Linked DNA regions of Homo sapiens: regions 1 and 2 are each reported to be linked to region 3. The links are microRNA targets in miRTarBase. Many come from high-throughput screens and were not tested one by one. Region 3 holds a microRNA gene; each other region holds the end of a gene's coding sequence.

Evidence for each region. The annotated mature microRNA hsa-miR-2467-3p reads AGCAGAGGCAGAGAGGCUCAGG and lies in region 3 at 5,129-5,150, opposite strand. An mRNA with a match to its seed (bases 2 to 7 or 8) in the 3' UTR can be bound and repressed. Matches are read on the target gene's strand: a 7mer-m8 pairs with bases 2 to 8, a 7mer-A1 pairs with bases 2 to 7 and ends in A, and an 8mer does both.
Region 1: miRTarBase lists C10orf71 as a target of hsa-miR-2467-3p. The part of its 3' UTR that is shown has no 7-base or 8-base seed match.
Region 2: the mRNA of DDX19A is a reported target of hsa-miR-2467-3p. Seed matches in the 3' UTR shown: 7mer-m8 at 2,336-2,342.

What each region holds. Positions count from the first base shown.
Region 1 is chr10:49,326,040-49,333,536 of GRCh38, forward strand. It overlaps C10orf71 (chromosome 10 open reading frame 71), which reads left to right. Exons shown (of 3, transcript NM_001135196.2): 3 at 1-1,453. The coding sequence ends at 814. Among named protein-coding and RNA genes, the nearest start is that of C10orf71, 31 kb to the left of the region's middle.
Region 2 is chr16:70,370,394-70,377,890 of GRCh38, forward strand. DDX19A (DEAD-box helicase 19A) reads left to right here. Exons shown (of 12, transcript NM_018332.5): 11 at 979-1,170; 12 at 1,532-2,990. The coding sequence ends at 1,593. ST3GAL2 (ST3 beta-galactoside alpha-2,3-sialyltransferase 2) reads right to left here. Exons shown (of 7, transcript NM_006927.4): 7 at 5,584-7,497. Among named protein-coding and RNA genes, the nearest start is that of DDX19A, 27 kb to the left of the region's middle.
Region 3 is chr2:239,346,604-239,354,100 of GRCh38, forward strand. It overlaps MIR2467 (microRNA 2467), which reads right to left and starts at 5,201; the gene lies at 5,121-5,201. It overlaps HDAC4 (histone deacetylase 4), which reads right to left. Exons shown (of 27, transcript NM_001378414.1): 2 at 6,075-6,315. The coding sequence starts at 6,096. RefSeq lists a silencer at 5,864-6,057.

The DNA.
Region 1 (7,497 bases), not on the chromosome of region 3:
GACAGCAAGCAAGCCACCTGCAGTCCCACCCAAAACAGAGAAAGCCCTGCGGCGGGCAAAGAAGCTGGCAAGTAAGAGGAGGAAGACGGATCAGGCTCAGGAGAAGCATGGCGAGTCACAGGAGGGAAAGCCCTGCCCGGAGGACTTGGAGCAGACACAGCAAAGGCCGCTGTGCCCCAGAGAGAGGCCCCGACACAATTTCCCCGTGGTCCGTTCCCTGCCCCCTCCCGTGCACCGCCACTCCGTGTCCGGCTTCTCGGAGCCTGTCGGGAGGCGGCCCGGGGGCCCCCAGTCCCTCACACCCCTGCCCGCGTACCCCGCCACCCAGAAGGTCCTCCAGGATCCGCAGTCCGGGGAGTACTTTGTCTTCGACTTGCCACTCCAGGTGAAAATCAAGACCTTCTATGACCCAGAGACGGGCAAGTATGTCAAGGTCTCCATCCCGTCCTCCGAGGGGGCCTCCCCAGAGCCGCCCCCACCGGACGCCCTGGCCGCTCCCTATGTGCTGTACCCCGGCTTCCAGCCAGTGCCCGTGACGGCCTTGATGCCGCTGCGCTGCTCCTCTCAGCTCTCCGCGCCCACCTTCCTCAGGCAGGGCCCTCGTGCCTCCGCGGCCCGCGCCAGGACCCAGAGTGTCCACGAGTCTGGACTACAGCTGGACCCAGGGCCTCACGGTGACTGCACCCCGCACTCTGCAGGCCAGCGCCCTCATGGTCCTCCCCAGAGCCCAGGAGAGGAGGGTGTAGAAGCTCCAGGCCTGGGCATCATCTCCACTGATGACCTAGAGGACTTTGCCACAGAAGGCATTTCTTGAGTTACTGCAGGCTGTCCCCCACCCCCAGATGAACCCAGAGGAGCTTACTTCCCCCTCCCCCAAAACAAGCAACACACACACACACACACACACACACACACACACACACGATCATCAACACATACTTAGCCTTTTTAGATCCATAAAGTCCAGAAGGCAGTAGGGATCCCAAGACGACCTCACCCAAAGGGCTCCCTGGCTCTCCTCTGATGGAGGGGCACTGCTTGCTTGGCCCGGTCCCCTCCGTGCCAGTTCCCAGGCGCACTCTACTCCAGCCCTTCTCCCTCCCTCCCTTCCTCCCTCTCCTGGCCCACCCTGCTCTTCCCTCGCCCTGCAAATTAGGTGGGTGTGGCAAGGGCACCGCCTGGTCCCAAGTGTCCCTCTGTACCCACACCCACCCACTCACTTGTAAGCTCCTTGATGAGCAAACCCCTAAGGCCCCCAGCTCAGACTCAGCAGGCATTCAGGTCAACTCAGGCAGACTGGCTAAGGACCAGCCCAGGGCAATTTTGCAGAAATGATCATTTGCACAGAATGGGTTTCCTTCACAGGGAGAAACTTGCCTCTGAAAGCTATTTTCTGATCAAGAAAAGGCCCACTTTTTAAAAAGTGAAACAAGTTTGCAGATACGGTTCTCTTCCTGGACTCCTGTCTTCCTTCTGTGGGCAGTAGGGGTCAGGGCTGACAGAGCCACCTCCCTGTCTACCACAGTCTGAGTCTGGCGTCCCACCTTGTCCCTTCAACACCTGTCCATGCCTTCTCAGGGCCAGGCCCTCCAGTGGGTCCTGACTGCCCTGATTTAGTAACCAGTACCTGTGCCCTCCACTCAAAAAGAAAGTGTGTTCACACCCTCACCCCCCATCAGTTCCTGACCTTTGGGGATTTGGAGGGAAGTGTTGGGATTAACTGAAGAGTTTGAGAGTTTTACCTAATGAAACGGATCCACTGGCCCAGCACAGTAAAGCCAAAATCCACACTGAGGTTTGCAGTGGGAGAAAGGAGGGTGTTTATTTGCAGGGCACCAAGCAAGGGGAATCAGGCAGCTCACGCTTAAAACCCAACCTCCCCCGTGGCTTGCAAGCATGGATTTTTAATGGCAAGGGAAATGTTCAGGAAAGCCAAAGTTACAGGTGAAATTGTAAATCAACACATGGAGGGTACACATTGGTTCGGCCTAAAAAGGCAGGATATCTTGAACCAGGGACTTACGGGTCATAGGGTGGAGTCAAACATTTTCTGAATTGCAATTGGTTAAGGAAGAGAAGCTTTGTTTTAAAATTTGGGTTAGCAGAAAGGAATGTTAGCTCTGGCTTGTGGGTGGGACTTCCCCCAGGCCCCCCAGGAAGAAATATAGAACAAAGAGCCGTGCTCAGAGTTCAGTCCTCAGCTCCCTCTTCTCTGAGGTCTCTGTGCCAGTGGATCCGTTTGGTGGGGGTCTGGGTTTCTGAAAAACAACTCGGAGTCAGAAGTTGAGATGTTCTTTTTAATTTCCAGAGGGAACAAAACACCCCAGGACTCTGGCTTCCTTCGCTGTTGTTTTAGGTTATTATTACCTTCCTGCTTATCAAGTTGTTCATTGGCTTCTTAGGGCTAGCTAAGTGCCTGGAATTTCCCTTGAAGGAAACCAAGATTTTCCTGTATTTCCATGGTTGGGGAGGGGACCCTGCTCGATCTTCAGAACAGGTGCCCTCTTGCAGGCAGCCGGCTAGGAAGGAAACCAGCACCCAGGGTATTGATAGGTTTCCATGCCACGGCTTCTACAGAAGCCTCTTAATTCTTGTTCTACTGGAAACACAGGGGCAAAACGTGCCTCCCTCTTTGTTTAGAAACCTCAGCAGCTGCCAGGACTATGCTGCCCAGGGCCCAGGGGACCATGCAAGATGCATTGTCCTTGTCCTGTTGGCAAAGGCGCCATTTCCACACTGGGAGGATGGGGAGGCATTCAGTAAACCAAGTCCCAGACTCACACAAATACAGGGGCTTTGATTTGGATTCAAGATTTTATACCTTTTTGTTTTCCCAACAAGTGCAGCCACACCTGATTTTCATTGTGAAAATACCACACAACGCCCCCTCCTTTCCTCCCAACCAATGCCATTCAATTTGGCCACACCTGTTGCCAGCCACGCAACCAGCCAGGAGTGCAAGCAGATCACTATCCCAAAATCTGGTTCCCATGAGTCGCTCACTGGGTGCAAGCGACAAGAACAAAGCTGCATTTTGGCCTGCCTCCAAATCACCTCAAGCATCCTCTCCACTTTGTTTTCATCTCACTAAAACATGAGAAGGAATATCTCATTTTGCAATTCTCAGGGTCCAAGGAAAAGAATTGTCTAACGAAGGAAGAGTCCATCTGTTCAATAAGAACCACGGTTATAGTAACTATGTCCCCACAGGAGAAAATATTACTTTGGGGAACTTATTTTGGGGAAGCGATCTTCTTCCTTAGAACCAATATTGGCAAGGCTGTGGGTAGAACTAAACACATAAAGTCTTGCTCCCAGCAAGTCAGCTAGAAGGACGCCTCACTCCCTTACAGCACTGGGCCTGTCTTCCTGAAGCACAGAATGCCTCCAGGGAACACAAGCAGAGAGTCTCCATCCAGTGAAGCCCAACTCACTAGCCAGTGATGTTTTCCTCTTTCCATTTGCTCCTGAGGGAGGTCATGTATGCCTTCTTCCTTCCTCACGCCCTCCTTCTTTCTCCCTTCCTTGTTTCCCTCCCTCTCTCCTTCTCTCTCTTCCTTTCTTCTTTCCTCCCTCCCTTTTACAAACATTTGCACTGTGCCAGGCACTTTGATGGGCGCTGATGGTACCATGACAATAAGATCTGGTCTCTGCACTCAAGGAGTTAAAATCTAACAGAGAAGAAAGATAATTACAATCCCACATGTTACGTAATTTAATAGGTTGTTCTGAGGAACACCTAACTTGCTCTGGCTTCAGGGGTTGGCACCTGAGCCAAGTCAAGAAACACAAAGCTGTCCATTAATTTATGAAAAAATTCAGAATTTCCCCAGCTTTAATCTATCAAAGATGACATTGATTAAATACTAATAGATTTGTCTTGCTATATCAAAGCATATTAATTTAGCTAACTGTTCATCAGCATTTCTAATCAGCACAAAAGCTGAACCAGTGTAGCCTCACAGGATAGACCTTGGTTGATAGGTCTTTCAGCTTCTGAATTGATATTTCACTCACAGGGGTTGCCCAGCAAAACCACTATTTCTGCCATTGTGTTTAGTAGGACAGTGGTGAGATTTATGACAACATGTTGTTTGTGGAAATTACAGATGTTGTCTGCATCTTCTGTGTAGTACCCTGGCCCTTTTCTATGAGTATGACCCCTCTAAATGTCTCCTGGGGAGAGGACATGGAGGTGGAGCACCTCCAGGAAACAGTTGAAGGTCCCGGGTTGTTCAACTAAACATGACCAAGGGCTCACATTGTCAAACATGTACCATGCGCTGGCCCATGAGTGGGGAGCTTGAGCCTGGACTTGGTCCTCCCAGCAAGCCCTTGAGAGAGGCCCTCATTAGCCTCATTTTACTGTAAAGGAAACAAAGGTGCCAAGATGGGATGTAACTGCCCACGGTCACAGAGCCACTAAGTGAGGGGCCATGCCAGGGTCTTGGGCCCCTCTTACTTCTAGGTGGACTCTTTAATACTCAACCAGTACTTCGTAAGTGCGGTCCCTGCAGCAGCAGCCTCCACATCACCAGGGGCTTGTGAGAAGTCCAGAATCCCTATCTCCATCTTCACAAGCTTCCCTGGGTGGTTGATCCATTTGTGCATTGAATTCTAAGTGCTGTCAGTCTCTGCTTAGCCTGTATAAATTTTGGGGAGGTGCACTGGATGTCTTCATGTCTCCACAGCAATGTCTTGTGCAAAGGAAGAGAGCAGCACATCTAGGTGGGGGAGTTGCAGGGAGATGATTGACACTCAATGTGAGAAAGGCATCTCTGAGGACGAGCATCATCTTTTTTTTTTTTTTTATTTGAGACAGAGTCTCACTCTGTTGCCCAGGCTGGAGTGCAGTGGCTCGATCTCAGCTCACTGCTACCTCTGCCTCCCGGATTCAAGCAATTCTCCTGCCTCAGCTTCCTGAGTAGTTGAGATTACAAGTGCGCACTACCGCACCTGGCTAATTTTTGTATTTTTAGTAGTGACGAGGTTTTGCCATGTTGCCAGGCTGGTCTCGAACTCCTGACCTCAAGTGATCCACCCACATTGGCCACCCTAAGTGCTGGGATTACAGGCGTGAGCCACGACATCCAGCCACTAGGATCGTCTTGACATTACGTCAACTGCTAGGGATAACTGAGCTCCCTGCCACTGGAAATGTACAATGGAAGCTGATGACCCCTTTCCTAAGACAAGGATGGATTCAGGTATCAGAAGGGACCTAACTATCTTTTGGGACCCCAGGCTACTTTTGGGGCTCCAGTATGCCACCGGCAAGGATGCAAGGTCTCAACAAGGAGTGGCCATAGGCACATGATGGAAAACATTTGCATACAAAAGGGGAGCTCTGTGGCAAAACCTGAACTCTGTGCATGTAGGAAACATTTTGGCCTAGATACACCATGAAGTTGAACACACCTGTTTGTACAGGTCTTCCAAATCATTCAGATGTGAAGTCCAAAGTGAGTGGAGCAAACTCGGAGCCACATCCCTGAGCTTGTCACCACCAGAGTCTTGTTTAGGCTTCCTCAGTGTCACCTCACAGAGCCGCCTGAGCAGAGGGGTCTTCCCTTCCACCAGGTGGATGGGTGGGCTCCTCCCTTAGCTGCTGGCTTCTAGCAGAATGCTCCAGCCTGCCTGGGCCTCAGAATCATCTGTGCACTTGTTAACACTTGTTATTCATCCCAGCCCTATTTCCAATTCACCTCATCAGATTCTCCAAGTGTGGGAAAGAGTCAATGCAGAGGTGCAAATTCCCGGGAGTTTCTGGTTAAACCAGTCTCACAAATGCCACTCCAGAGCACAGTTCCACATCTGGGCCCCACATACTGGCCAGGAGCTGCCAGGCCCAGAGTTCTGCTCAGGGGAAACACCCTCCTGTGGAAGGTTATGTGGAGGTAGGACCTGGGGCAAGAAGAACTCAGAGGCACTACTTTCTTCATGTGGAAGCGGTGAATGGGGAAAGGTATGACAGCCCTTGAGGGCCACCCAGTGCAGCCTCCAGCCCTGCGCAGAGCCACCTGGCCTGCTTCCTGCTGCCACACCTTCCTCTCCTCCTCCAGGTGTGCCCCAAAGCTCTATCAGGAGGCTACTCTTCCACAGAAGGGAGGAGGGGCATTGTTAGAAATAAAGACTTCCCTTTGAAGGAAAGTTCAAACTTTCCCTCTGAAGGTTCCATAATTGAATCTGCTGAGATAAACTGACAATAGACAGATTAACCAGAGAAAAGGCCTACAAATTTATTAACATGCAAGCCCAGGGGAGTTGCACGAAGTGTGCAACTCTAAGAAGAACCAGATGGTTGAAACTTAAATATCCTCTTTGTAGAGGAGAGGGAGTTGGGGGTTGCAATTCTGAGGAAGAGTAAATGATTTTTTAGGGAAGATAAATGGGTCCAAAGAACAGACAATGGCCTAGAGCAAAGTTCCCCTGGGTCCCGGGTGTGGTATCCACTCCAGTCGTCTTTCCAAGCCTTCTTTCCTGTAAGTTCATCTCTGTTTGACAAGCTAGGGAAGGGAGTCCAAGACAACTGCATTCCTTCTGGAGGAACTTCCCTTAGTCAAGAAAGCCCCTCCTTGCCCTTCGGGAGAGGCAAAGAGGTGTGGGACAGGGTCTAGAGAAGGTCAGAGGGACCTTGGTTCTGGGGCTGCTTCTTCAGTTCAAAGTATTCAGCATGTCAACGCACCACACTTTAGGGTAACACTTTAAACTGGGTGAAGCCTGGGGCTCTGACCTACGCAAGTAGATGTCCGAGGATGAAGGTGCTCCACTAACCACTATCCCCAAACAGGGAGTTAACCTTCTTGTGCTCATCATTTGCCAAACTGTGGTTTAGTTTTTAAGTCTTTGCACTGTCTCAGAATTTTTCTCGAGCCTCAGCTTGCTCTGGGCACTGTCACATGGATGCCATTTCCCTGGGTCCTTGTCTGGCATCAGTCCTGCTCCTGGGTCCCAGCCCCAACTCCCACCGCTTGTGGCCATCCTTCCTGAGCTTCAGAGCCCTCCCTTAGGCCCCTTCATGAGAACATTGTCAGCACCTGCCTTCCTGTCATTCGTGATCATTCTTCTATTTTCCTCTGAATTTGGAAACCTTTGGCTCGTGTGGTCCTCTTTCCCATTTACAAAGGCCATATACGTCACCAGTCTCCTTTGGCATTCCCGTGCTTTTACCAGCCCATTCCTCCTCACTGATGTAGCCTGAAAAAGTCAGCAGGCCAAGTCAATAGTTAATCGAACAGTTGGCTTCTAGCAGAGACTGCCAGCCAGTGCTGACAGAAGTGGAGACCTCGTTGCTGCTTTCTTGCACTTGTAGTCTTCATGTACTTGTGTGAGGAGTGACCCCTGCACAGGGCAAGGTGATCGCAGTGCCCCCACCCCCCATCTGTCCTGACTCACACACAGTTACTACATCTCCATGCACAGGGCAAGTTGATCTCAGTGGGCGCCCCCATCTGTTCTGACCCACACACAGTTACCACATCTCCACTGTCCAATGTG
Region 2 (7,497 bases), not on the chromosome of region 3:
AGGACGTGTCCCACCTGGTCTGCCAGGCTCGGGGTCCCAGGCCCAATTAGAGCCAGAAATCCTTGTATACAGGGAAGTCGGATGGTCTCAGGGAGATGGGTGGGGTTGGTGACACTATTCCTTTCTAGGAGAGACTGTTTGGATTTCCCTGAGGTGGTAAGAACTCACACATGCCAGGTGCGGTGGCTCATGCCTGCAATCCCAAGGCAGGAAAATTGCTTGAACCCTGGAGACAGAGGTTGCAGTGAGCCGAGAATGTGCTATAGCACTCCATCCTGGGTGACAGAGTGAGACTCTGTCTCCAAAAAAAAAAAGGAAGAGGGCAGGCCCAGTGGCTCACGCCTGTAATCCCAGCACTTTGGGAGGCCGAGGTGGGCGAATCACCTGAGGTCAGGAATTCGAGACCAGCCTGACCAATATGGTGAAACCCCATCTCTACTAAAAATACAAAAATTAGCCGGGCGTGGTGGCATGCGCCTGTAATCCCAGCTACTCAGGAGGCTGAGACAGGAGAATCGCTTGAACCCGGGAGGTGGAGGTTACGGTGAGTGAGATCGCGCCATTGCACTCCAGCCTGGGCAACAAGAGCGAAACTCCGTCTCAAAAATAAAAAAAGAAAGAAAGAAAAGGAACTCCCGCAGAAACCAGTAGTCCTGACTTGGTGGAAGGAAATGTACAGGCATCTGACTGGTAGAGAACGGAGCCTACTCTTCCAGGGGCGCCCATCTCCAGAACATTGTGTCTCCCAGAGGATTACCGACTGATCTCATGATTTTGTTGGCACTTGCCAAAGTTCTCTTCTTTTCCTCTGGGTTCTGTTGCCTGCCTATATGTGTGCCCTCTCTTGTACCCAGAGTTGGCCTGTCCCAAATTCTTTCCCTCTATCCCAAAGTTGGTACGCATTGACCTACCTATGGATGACAGTGATTTCTGTCTCCTGTCCTTAGTCCTCTCAGCCTCCAACTCTCCTTCCTGCAGGCATTGATGTTGAACAAGTGTCTGTCGTCATCAACTTTGATCTTCCCGTGGACAAGGACGGGAATCCTGACAATGAGACCTACCTGCACCGGATCGGGCGCACGGGCCGCTTTGGCAAGAGGGGCCTGGCAGTGAACATGGTGGACAGCAAGCACAGCATGAACATCCTGAACAGAATCCAGGAGCATTTTAGTGAGTCCCGGGGAGGGTCCTGTGCCTGGCGCCCTTTGCTAAGTAGGGCGGGGTGGTGAAAGGGGTAGGATCTTCTGTAGCCCCAAGAGAGGCTCTGTCCCTAGCACACTCCCCTCCTTTCTGACCATATGGCAGTTCTCAGGGAGCACACCTGGAGACTTCAGGACCCAGGGACTCCAAGGACAGCTCCCCTGTGACTGGGCTTCGGGGCGTGGGGCTCTGACTGTTGCTGTCAGTGACTAGGGGCCCTGCTGCCCCCTGCTTAGGCACCCGGAGCCTTTGGGCCTGAATGAATGATTGCTGTGGCCTGAGGTGGGGCACATTCCTGGGCAGGGTAGAGACTTGTGTATCTTTCCCCCAGATAAGAAGATAGAAAGATTGGACACAGATGATTTGGACGAGATTGAGAAAATAGCCAACTGAGAAGCTCCACCAGCCACTGATGCCAGCCCTGGCACTGCCCCTGCACAGGAGACAAGTGCATTTAGGGCACAGGCCCCGACATCACCCCAAGGACAACGGCAGAAGTAGAGAGAAACTACCTACCTCACTTCAAATTATGTTTGGACTTGACAAAAATAGGTGCAAATGATGGGGGGCAATAGAAGAAAAAATTTGCATTTTGGAAAATTGGGTCCTTTCCCCACTTTTTTAAAGCCACATTCCCCCATCTTTATAATAATCTGGTCACAGTGGTAGTCGCTGGCCCCAGGACCCCCTCCTGATTTTGGCTAGGCATCGTGGAACCAGCTCCAGCCCCTGAAGAAACGATAGATGTGCAGGTTGTGCGGAAGAGGCTGAGTGGAAAATGGTGTGAGCCCCACCGCTGTGCATCGAATGAGGGAAGTGGCAGCAGAGAGGCCAGAGCTGCCCCCTCTCTGTCTCTTCAATGGACCCTTCACAAGTGTTTCTCCTGCCCTTGGGGCTGTCTTCCTTCTCCTGAAATCCAGAGACTTTCTTGCTCATCCCTTCTCCCTTTCACTTCTGTTCTCTGCTGCAGAAAGCAGACTTGCATATCCCTGATGAGCAGCTCGGCTACTTTTGTAAACTTCAGATTTGGAGAGAAACACGAAAGTCTGAATCCTGACCCCTTGAGAGAGAGTGATCTGGCGAGGGCCGATGAAGGGGCTGGGCCTGGTCTTGCCTTCTCTTCTCTCGGTTGCTCCCTCTGCCTAGGCCCCTGGTACTCAGTCACGGCAGCCAGGAGACCCCAGGTGAGTTTCTGAGCGCATACGTAGTTGGTTCTTACCCCCAGGTGTCACACGGGGCCGAGAGCTGAGCAAGAATTTGGAATGGAAGTTATGACCAAGGGAATTATGCTGTTCATTTATAATAGTGGACATTATGGAGAGCTCTGATTCCTACATAATATGAATAAGGATGGATAGGCCGGGCGTGGTGGCTCATGCCTATAATCCCAGCACGTTGGGAGGCTGAGGCGGGCGGATCGGTTGAGCTCAGGCGTTCGGGACCAGCCTGGCCAACATGATGAAACCCCGTCTCTACCAAAAATAGAAAAAAATATAGCCGGGCCTGGTGGCGCACGCCTGTAGTCCCAGCTACTCGGGAGGCTGAGGTAGGAGGATCGCTTGAGCCTGGGTAGAGGCTGCTGTGAGCTGAAATGGCGCCACTGCACTCCAGCCTGGGTAACAGAGCGAGACCCCGACTCAATAAATAAATAAGGATGGATAAATTGTAGCGTATGCACCATTCATTATGCTAAGACATTTTAAAGTAATTATGAGAAACGCTCTACTAATGATTTGTTTTTATTTGTATTTTTCTGCTTATTAGACAAATATATACTCATTTTAAAAAGGCGTGTGTGTATATAAAGTGAGAGTGCTCTCTATCCCTTCTCTTCTGGGATCCTGATTCCTGGCAGCTTGGTGAATATTCTACCATATTGCCTTTTATTTGCATAAACCCATTTTTCTTTTACAAAAACAGGAACATTCTGTTCACACTACTATGCAACCTGCTTTCACTGATCAGCATGTGTTAGACATGTTGACATGTCCAATACACACACATCTTCCTTGCCCTGGAAACACCATCCACCTTCCTTTCTGCGTGTAGCTGTCCCGGCATTTATCTCCTGGTTCCTCTAGTGACAGGCATGGGGGATTTCTAGTACATGGCTGTTATCCACAGTACCACAATGAACATTTTTTTTTTCTTTTTTTGAGACAGAGTGTCACTCTGGCCCGGAGTACAGAGGCGTGATCTCGGCCCACTGCAACCTCTGCCTCCCAGCTTCAAGCAGTTCTCTTGCCTCAGCCTCCCAAGTAGCTGGGATTACAGGCACATGCCAGCATGCCCAGCTAATCTTTATATTTTCTGTAGAGATGGGGTTTTGCCATGTTGGCCAGGCTGGTCTCGAACTGACCTCAAGTGGTCTGCCTACCTCTGTCGGCCTCCCAAAGTGCTAGGATTATAGGTGGGTGCCATCACGCCTGGCCGAACATTTTTTTTTTTTTTTTTTTGAGACGGAGTCTCACTCTGTCGCCCAGGCTGGAATTCCGTGGCGTGATCTCAGCTCACTGCAACCTCCACCTCCTGGGTTCAAGCGATTCTCCTGCCTCAGCCTCCTGAGTAGCTGGGATTACAGGCACATGCCACCGCACCCAGCTAATTTTCGTATTTTTAGTAGAGACGGGGTTTCACCATGTTGGTCAGACTAGTCTCAAACTCCTGACCTCGTGATCCGCCCACCTCGGTCTCCAAAAGTGCTGGGATTACAGGCGTGAGCTACTGTGCCTGGCCTGAACATCTTTTTAAAAAAGATTTATTGCTTATTTATTTTTGTAGCGATGGGGTCTCACTAAGTTGCCCAGTCCAGTCTCAAACTCCTGGGCTAAATTGATCCTCCTACCTCAACCTCCTAAGTAGTTGGGATTACAGGCATGAGCCCTTGACCCAAACTGAACATCTTTGTTCTCTTTTTTTTTTTTTTGAGACCAGCTCTCACTTTGTCACCCAGGCTGGAATACAGTGGCATGATGATCTCGGTTCACTGCAGCCTCGACCCAGTCTCAAGTGACCCTCCTGCCTCACCCCTCCAAGTAGATGGGACTACAGGCCTGCACCACCACACCCGGCTAATTTTTGTATTTTTTTTTGTAGAGATGGGGTCTCACCATGTTACCGAGGCTGGTTTTGAACTCCTGAGCTTAAGTAATCTGCCCGCCTGGGCCTCCCAAAGTGCTGGGATTACAGGCATGAGCCATCATGCCCAACCTTATTCTTATTTTTGAGCGTTGGTGAAAATCACTTCAGGATATTATTCCTGGAAGTAGAATTGTTGGGTCAAAGAGTAGGGACATTTAAAATTTTAATTCATTGTCATTTACACTTGCCAAAGGTTTTTACCAATTTATGTTACTGTGATACAAAAATTACGTGCTTGCCAACAGTATTATCAATGTTTAAAACTTTGCCAGTCTAAGTGGCAAAAACAGATTATGTCATTGTTTGATTTTGATTTAGTGAGGCTTGGCAAACATTAAGTTTCTTAGAAAATCTTTTCTGTTGGGGAGCTGCCCATTCTTGTCTCACTACATTATTATTATTATTATTGAGATGGAATTTTGCTCTTGTTGCCCGGGCTGGAGTGCAATGGTACGGTTTTGGCTTACTGCAACCTCTGCCTCTCCAGCTCAAGCGATTCTCCTGCGTCAGCCTCCCAAGTGGGATTACAGGCATTTGCCACCACACTGGGCTAATTTTGTATTTTAGTAGAGATGGGGTTTCTCTATGTTGGTCAGTCTGGTCTTGAACTCCCAACCTCAAGCGAACCGCCCACCTTGGCCTCCCAAAGTGCTGGGATTACAGGCATGAGCCACTGTGCTGAGCCCTGGCCTGTATCCTACTCTTTGAAAGGAAGTCATTATGTACATGCAGCCCACACCTCAAGGAAGTTACATGCTCTCCTTAAGGGCAGAGTAGCTACCTACATTAATTATTCAACTCCTCTGCAAGGGAGAATTCTCTCTTCTCCCCCACTGATTAATTTATTCAATCATGTACAGAGTTTTTATTAGTATTAGACTGGTGATGTACCTTGATCATTTGGTTAAGGTGACTGATAAAAAAATTTTTTTTTGTTTTTTGTTTTGAGATGGAGTCTCGCTCTGTTGCCCCGGCTGGACTCCAGTGGCTTGATCTCGACTCACTGCAACCTCTGCCTCCTGAGTTCAAGTGATTCTCCTGCCTCAGCCTCTTGAGTAGCTGGGACTACAGGCACCTGCCACCACACCCAGCTGATTTTTTGTATTTTTAGTGGAGACAGGGTTTCACCATGTTGACCAGGCTGGTCTCAAACTCCTGACCTCATGACCCACCCACCTTGGCCTCCCAAAGTGCTGGGGTTACAGGTGTGAGCCACCTTGCCCGGCCTAAGTGTACTCAAGCCTTAGTTAAGGTTTATTTATTTCTATTTATAGCAAAGACAGCTGAGATGTCAAACTCTTCCCTTTCATGGTCTCCAGTGCGGTGCCCGTGGTAACAGCGTTTCACAGGAAGCACCGTGGAGACGCAGCCCAGGGGACTGCCATGGCCCTGCGAAGGGGCAGCGTCTCTTCCCTCTGTGGTCCCCTTTACCCATTCCATGACAAATGGTAGGCAAAAAAAGATATCGCAGGAAGGCCCTCCGTGATTCACTTCATATGTTTATGTATTGGTTGAATTATTTTTGTAATTTTAAAAAAGGAAAGGCAAAGTCATTTTATAGCAAGGCCGGATGGAACTGGGCGCCCTGAGTGCAGATGCCATATGTTTCTTCTGCTTCACAGGCTTCCCTCTGGAGAGAACCAGGCTGCCAGAGAGTCTGTGCTGTTCTCAGCAGCACAAACAGTTGCTAGAGGAAAGGTGTTAATTCCACACTCTGAGGACCAGGCTGGCCCAGATACATACTGCTCCTCAAGCCTCACAGAGGCGGGAGAGGGGGACCTCCTCTTGGATTTTGTGGGTTGGTTGTTACCCAGGCATAGACTTGCTGCAGGAGCTGTGATTTTTTTCACAAAAGTAGTGAGAAGGGGCATTGATTCCTAATTCACACTCAAAAGGGAATACTTTTATTTTTAAAAATATAGTTTCAGTATTTTACCTTCCCTGATGCCTCTGACCTTGCCAGACAGTCACAGAAGGTACTTCCTTGTCTGCTGCCTGTGGATGGGTAAAATACTTTTTTTTTTTTGAGACGGAGTCTTACTCTGTCGCTCAGGCTGGAGTGCAGTGGCTCAATCTCGGCTCACCACAACTTCCACCTCCCAGGTTCAAGCAATTCTCTGCCTCGGTCTCCCGAGTAGCTGGGATCACAGCCGTCTGCCACTAAGCCTGGCCAATTTTTTGTATTTTTAGTAGAGACGGGGTTTCACCATCTTGGCCAGGCTGGTCTTGAACTCCTGACCTCGTGATTCACCTGCCTCAGCCTCCCAAAATGCTGGGATTATAGGCATGAGCCACCGTGCCTGGCCATAAAATGTTTTTAAAAAATTTTTTAGCTAGGCTCTAGCTGCTCTGGAGGCTGAGGTGGGAGGATCACTTGAATCCAGGAGTTTTTGAGGCTGCAGTGAGCTCTGCACCAGTCTGGGCGACAGGAGACCCTGTCTCTTAAAAAAAAAAAAAAAAAAAAAAAAAGGGTCTGGTGGCTCACGCCTGTAATCCTACCATTTGGGAGGCCAAGGCAGGCGGATCACCTGACGTCAGGAGTTCAAGACCAGCCTGACCAACATGGAGAAACCCCGTCTCTACTAAAAATACAAAATTAGCCGGGCGTGGTAGTGCATGCCTGTAATCCCAGCTACTCAGGAGGCTGAGACAGGAGAATGGTGTGAACCCGGGAGGCGGAGCTTGCAGTGAGCGGACATAGCACCACTGCATTCCAGCCTGGGCAATGGAGAGAGACTCCATCTGAAAAAAAAAAAAAAAAAAGAGAAAAGCCTCCATCGTGACAAAGGGGTTAAATAAGCAACCAGAGGCCGGGCACGGTGGCTCACACCTGTAATGCCAGCACCTTGGGAGGCCAAGGTGGGCAGATCACGAGGTCAGGAGTTCAAGACCAGCCTGGCCAACATGGTGAAACCCCGTCTCTACTAAAAATACAAAAATTAGCTGGGCATGGTGGTGCGCATCTGTAATCCCAGCTATTTGGGTGGCTGAGGCAGGAGAATCGCTTGAACCCAGGAGGCACAGGTTGCAGTGAGCCGAGATCATGCCACTGCACTCCAGCCTGGTCAACAGAGCAAAACTCCATCTCAAAAATAAAAAAATATAAGCAACCAGGAGTGAAACACACCTGTGGAGGCAGGGAACTCAGGAAATCAA
Region 3 (7,497 bases):
ACACACATACACACCTTAACACACACACACTCTGTCTAAAACACACACCCATATCTTAATACAGTCTAAAACACACACACTGTCTAAAACACACACCCTAACACACACATACCCTAACACACACGCTCTAAAACACACCCTGACACACACACCCTGTCTAAACACACACCCTAACACATACACCGTCTCACACACACACACCCTGTCTAAAACACACACACACCACCTAACACACACACCCTGTCTCACACACACCCTATCTAAAACACACACACCCTAACACACACACCCTGTCTCTCACACACACACCCTGTCTAAAACACACACACACCCTAACACATACACATTGTGTCTAAAACACACACACGCACCCTAACACACACACCCTGTCTAAAACACACACCCCATCACACGCACACACCCTAACACACATACACCCTGATTCACACACATACAACCTGTCTAAAACACACACCCTAACACACACTCTAACACACACATACACACAGACACTTTGTGGTATTCCTGAGACATTCAACCACTGCAGAGCATTATTTAAATGCCATAAAAATGCATCTTTATGGATCATTTCTATATTAAAATATAATAATCTTGGCGGCCACAATAGTTAAAATAAACAGATTCAAGATCAAATAAAGTTAGAGCAGAACATGAGGACTGGAAGCAATCCCAGAGGAGAGCCTTCTCCCTGGACTCACAGGGTTAACACTCAACAGTGGTCTGAAGCAACTGTATTACCATGAACTCACTCATCACCAAGTCATTGTGGACAGAGACTTTTTAGCTGCTTTTATGTGGATGGGGGTAGCTCAGACTGAACAGAATATTAAGAAATCATAGAATGGCCCAAATGAACACACTGATCTTAAGTTACACACGTTTCCCACAAAATCCTTTTTTTTTGTTTTGAGACAACAGTCTTGCTCTGTCGGCCAGGCTACAGTGCAGTGGCACCATCTCGGCTCACTGCAACCTCACCTCCCGGATTCAAGCGATTCTCCTGCCTCAGCCTCCCGAGTAGCTGGGACTACAGGCGCGTGCCACCACGCCTGGCTAATTTTTGTGTTTTTAGTAGAGACGGGGTTTGACCATGCTGACCAGGCTGATCGCGAACTCCTGACCTCAAATGATCTGCCCACCTCGGCCTCTCAAAGCACGAGGATTACAGGTTTGAGCCACCGCACCCGGCCACTTATTTTGTTTTGAACTAAACATTATCCGTACCTCGCACCAAGATTCCAGGAGCGAGAGGATGCTCAAGTTACCGACCACTGCCTGCTCAACCAGCTTCCTATCGAGAGCATCATCCCGGTGACCATAGACACGTCCCAGCAAATCCACGTCCCAGCAAATGCACTGCTTCCTATCGAGAGCATCATCCCGGTGACCACAGACACGTCCCAGCAAATCCACTGCTTCCTATCGAGAGCATCATCCCGGTGACCACAGACACGTCCCAGCAAATCCACTGCTTCCTATCGAGAGCATCATCCCGGTGACCACAGACACGTCCCAGCAAATCCACGTCCCAGCAAATGCACTGCTTCCTATCGAGAGCACCATCCCGCTGACCACAGACACGTCCCAGCAAATCCACGTCCCAGCAAATGCACTGCTTCCTATCGAGAGCACCATCCCGCTGACCACAGACACGTCCCAGCAAATCCACGTCCCAGCAAATCCACTGCGGGGCTCCTTGACACTGAGAACTTTTCTGGGCAAGACTTTCTCTAGGCACGAACATTCCGGAAGGGAAAGTAAATGACACTGGAGGGACGGGGTAGTGTTAAGTGGGTGGCCAAGTAACAACGTCTGCCTTTCCTGCTGGCCAGTCAAGTCACCAGTATCCTAAGCCCTTAACCACAAGGAAAGACAAGGACAGTTACTTGGAGAACTGTCCTTGGAGGAAAACAAGGGAATGGGAGAAAAAAAAGGAGGCGTAGCTTGTCCTGCCAGCAGGCCCCCGTGGGCTTTCCGTCCACACTCCCGGTTTCATGCCAGGGACTCTGGCTTCAAGGCAGAGGCTCTGTGTCCTGACAAACGCATCCTGCCCTGCCACAGCGCATCCCCTCAGGGAGGGTGTGGAGGGCTGGCCGGGCAAGGGGCGTAAGGCTCCAGGGCCTCCTTTCAAAGGAGAGCCCTTCCAGGCTAAGTCAATCCAGGTTCTTCCCTCAGGCCGCTCACATCATTAGAAATCGTTCTTTAGAGCAATAAAATCCCAACAGTTAAGCAGCTTTGACGTCAGAGAACCAGGGCCTGGCTCTGGCAAAGTTCAGCGGGAACAGCAATAAAACCGTAACACAAAACTCACCCAGCAGCAGAGGACTTTCACAGAACACAGGAGAGGAAAGCCACACACACTGCACTAGAAGGGCACTTCATCAGCAGGGCAAAGCCAAGTCACATGACAAATGTGAGAGGGGGCCCATGGGCGGCTGGACTCCCCCAGCCCGGCCTGCCCAGGGAGTGAGGGCGGCACGGGCACCCACACCAGGCCACACAGGAGCAGGGCCCCCATGCCAGATGGGCAGGCAAGGGTGAGCCAGGCAGGCAAGAGTGAGCCGGGTGGGCAGGGCGAAGGACAGGGCCAGCTAGCAGAGGACGGCACGAGAGACACACGGAGGGAGGGGAGGTGCAGCCAGGTAGGCCCCGAACACCACGTTGCCAGGACTCGGCTCCTCGGCTCAAGGAAAAGGGACAGCGGTTCCGTGGCTGTGCTCTGACACACCTAGAAATTTCCCGCTCAAGAGAGCAAACTGAATCCTTTAGTATTAATGATTTCTCTTCCTCCCAAAACCCACTAAAATGATGAAAAGCAGGATTGGAAAGCACTTCCAGCAATGCCTGGGAGCGGACGGACAGGTGCATCAGCTGACAAGAAACACAGAGGAACTTCCCGAAACTAGAGATCTCTGGGGATGGAGCTGCTTGGGAAGGCACACAAGCGAGTGGGCCTCGCCCAGGAGGGAGGGCACGGTTCTGGGCAAGCCCCATCCCCCGCCTGAGACGTGGGCAGAGGCCGCTGGGCCACCAGCCAGTGTGTGCAGGTGGTGGTATGCACGTGTTGGGCACAAGGGGTCCTGCCTCCCAAGGGACCTCCGGGCGGAAGGGCAGACACGGCAGGGAAAGATGACAGCGGACAGGGCAGAGGAGGCAGCCAGCAGACTTCAGGCCCCAGGCAAACCACCTCAGCTGTACCCCCTGCACAGATGGAGAGCAGAGAATGGGCTGGGCCAAGGGGCAGCCCTGCCCTCACCAGTGCGGCCTGTCTTCAGCCTCCAACCCACTGAGAGAGAGAATGGAGAGGTCGTGGGTGGCAATAAGGCGCACACAACCCAACTCACATGGGCAGGACAGGCCCGGGCAGGCCGGTGATCAAACTGAACCGCAGCGGCTGAAATTCCCACAGAAAAGGCCAAACAAACCCAGCACCCCGCGGTTTCCAGAGCTGAGCCTCAAAGAACCCGGCCTGAAAAGGTTAGAGACAAGCGGATGGAGAAATATTTGTTAGCCAAAAGAAACCAAGGGTAGAAATACCTCATGAAACACTATAAGCTCTCGGTCAAAGAAACATTAAACAAAGAGAAATATATTATATTTTGATAAGAGACCTGATCTACCAAAAGAACAGTCATTAATTTTTAAGCTTTAAAAAAAAACACTGAACTATATAAAGCAAAAAATGGTTATTAATGTAAAAAGAATATTATAAGACTATAATCACAGTAGAAAAATACACTTTTCCAAGAAATCGAGCAGACAGAAAAAAATAAGTAAAGCTATACTGATTTAAATAACTCAACTGAGTTAATATATAATTAAAACAACATATAAAGAAAGGATACATATCCTCCTATATATAAATAAAATATATATAAATGAGAGAACTTTTTTTTTTGAGACGGAGTCTTGCTCTGTCGCCAGGCTGAAGTACAGTGGCGCAATCTCAGCTCACTGCAACCTCTGCCTCCCAGGTTCAAGCGATTATCCTGCCTGAGCCTCCTGGGTAGCTGGGACTACAGGCACACGCCACCACGCCCAGCTAATTTTTGTATTTTTAGTAGAGATGGGGTTTCACTATGTTGGTCAGAATGGTCTCAATCTCTTGACCTTGTGATCTGCCCACCCTGACCTTCCGAAGTGCTGGGATTACAGCTGTGGGCCTCTGCGCCCGGCCGAGAACTTTAAATACAATATTGATACATACATACAGACGTCTTTAGACTGAAACAAAATCCTAAGAGCATACTTTCTCTTCAAATGCCTGCAGAGCATGTACAAATTATGATTATGTGTACACCAAGTCATACAAAAATATGCACCCCCATTAAAATAATCAAGTGTACTCAAACAATAATTTTCCCATAGCACACTGACAAAAATGAGAGAGACTGAACCTACCCAGTGCTGGTACAGCACAAATGAAAAATATGCATCCTCTTACACTGGAATTAGGAAGATCAGTTGGAACGAGGCTTCTGGAGCAATTTGACAGTCAACCTAATGATGTTTTAAGTGCACGGGCTCACTGACCCAGCTTCCACTTCCTGGAATTTGTCTAGTAGTGATACTTAGAAGTTTACAAAATATATGTATAATAATTGTTTGATGCCAATTTGGAATTGGTATAAACACTGCTACAACCACATAAATATCCATTCGCAAGGTATCAAAAGAGCAAGTTATATTTGCACACATACTGATACCAAAAGATGCTTATAACACATTAAAATGGACAGAATGTAAAACACAGGGCCCTGCCTATAGAATTATACTCTATGAAAATGCTCACACACATCACACTATGTTTAGACACAGAAAAAAGATACACTCTCACCCAACAGCAGCCCAGTGTAGGAGGGAGAGAGCCAGCTCCATTCAATGTCTATTTAGACACTTTGAGCCATAGCGCTTAATTTTGTCTTGGAATGATCATAAACCATTTCTTTACATCAGTCAATACATAAACAATTTAACTCAATAAAACTTTCATATCTAAAAAAACCTGGAATCTTGCCCTCTGGAATTTTCAGACAAAGACGATTCCACCCAGGGAAAGATGTGTGTAAGCGTTCCGGCAATCTCAAAGAGAGTGACCCAGACAGACCCTGAGCCTCTCTGCCTCTGCTCTAAGGAGCAGGACCCAGAGCCAAGGCTAACAGAGCCTCAGGTGCCTGTCCAAGCGTCTGTCCAGTGGCCACCGTCTTCTCTCTCATGTGGACGCAAGACAGAAGTCGATGGCTAAGTGCCCTTGAAGGCCACGGTGCGCTGGAAGTGGCAGGAAGCTGGGCAGCACAGGACTGGCTCTGCAGGAGCCCCACACTCAGGCAGGTCGGCGGCAGGCCTCGAGGTTTCATTATGGTGCACGCTCTCGGTGACTTTCCAAGGACAGAAAGTGTGAAGTCGTAAATGGATGGGCCCATGACATGCTTCTGAAGCTCAGAGCAGGACAAGCTTGCTTCCCAATCATGTGGGTCCCCCACCTACCAGCTCTGTGACCTCAGGCAAATTACTTCTTCCCTCCAGGCCTGAGATGATCTGGGGCTGTACTAAATGCTTGTAAAATGCTTAGTGCAGCCCCTCACAGAGGCCCTCAAACACCAGGAGCAACTGTGGCCACGACCTCAGTGGGAACATGAGCTTCTTCCCAGACAGCCCAGACGCCCAGTTGGAGGAGCACTCCCACCCCTCACACAACCCCTCATGAAACAACAAAGACACTGGGCAAGAAACCAGCTCTCCACATCACAACCTGACCTTTCAACATCACCCTTGTCAAAAAGCATCGAGGAAACCTGTGTGCCTCTCAAGTCAGCCTGCAAACCGGGGTCGCAGACTTGACTCCACATCCTCCCAGGTTTTATCATTCTTCTTTCACCAAGAGGAAGAATAAACCATCCATTTTGCACTTTGTGCTGTCAAAAACCAACAGTGACCACTATCAAGAAAAACAAAAGTCTCAAATCCAGAAAGCAAGCTGCAGTCACAAGAACTTCTACTTTGGGCAAAGAAAGCCCCGCTGTGTGCCCAGAGAAGAAATGACCCGGCCTTACCTGGATGGCTTTGGGAGCTCATTGCTAGCAATGTCCACTCCTTTAAGTGATTCGAAATGGCTCAAAATTTCCACGGAAACGATAGCTCCAACGAGCTCCAAACTCCCACCAACACATACAAGTACCGGGACGGTGAGGGCTGGGTCACAGACGTTCAAGCGCCGAGCCTCGCCGGCAAGGTCTCATGAGCCAGGTAACCCACAAGTTGAACAGAGGCGTCCGCTGGCTTCTGCAGATGAACCTGCAAGGTCAGAAGGAGAAAAGAGACTGGAGTTACAACATGGAAGTTCCGATCTGGAAAACAACATCCAACTAGGGAAATGATGACTTCCTCTTTTTTTTTGGAGACAGAATCTTGCTCTATCGCCCAGGCTGGAGTGTGGTGGCACGATCTGGGCTCACTGCAACCTCCACCACCCCTGCAACCCTGGGTTCGAGCAATTCTCCTGCCTCAGCCTCCCGAGTAGCTGGGAACACAGGTGCATGCCACCAGGCACAGCTAATTTTTGTATTTTTAGTAGAAACGGGGTTTTGCCATGTTGGCCCAGGCTGGTCTCAAACTCCTGACCTCAAGTGATCCACCCACCTCAGCCTCCCAAAGTGCTGGGATTACAGGCTTGAGCCACCACGCCCCACCAACTTCCTTCTTTATCCTTGTTCTGACCAAGGACTGATAGAACAGTTCGACGGAATCATTTCTACAAATACGAGCAGTGGGATTTTTGTTAGTAAATCACAGACATGTAAAAATGTCTCCAGAGAGCAGGGTTTCTCAGCCTCAGTACCACTGGGATTTTGGTTTGCGTATTTAGGTGTTGGGGTGTAGGGCTGCCATACACATTATAAGATATTTAGCAGGATCCTGGGCCTCCACACACCAGATGCCAGCAGCATCTTCCAGGTCATGACAACCAAGAATGTCTCCAGGGAGTGCCAAAGGTCCTCTGGGGGATAATATCATCCCCTGGTTCAAAATATCTGATCTAGAGACACCTTCCTTACCCCTTCCAGAAGTTTCTCCAACATTAGGCTTTTGAAAGGAAGCAGAGTATCTTCCAACTAATATAAATTTATTCTGTCATATTAGCTTATGAAATAAATATGAAATAAAATGTTTTAAAAGAAAAATCACTTTCAGCACATTCCCACCACAAAATGTCATTACTGCACGCTTGCATCAGCCTGGATCCATAGACATTCGTAGTCACAATGTCTGTGTAATCACAGAATTTAATTCTAAAGTCCGCATTCCTCACGTAACATGATAACCTAAAATAGTTCCCTCATGTTTCTGTCTTCATAATGACCATTTTCTCAGGTTTTCATTTTCTGCTTATAAAAGCAATACATGCGCATCACAGGTTAAGTATTTAAAAAGTCATCCATGATGCCATCACACACAGACAAGCCCTTGGTAACATTC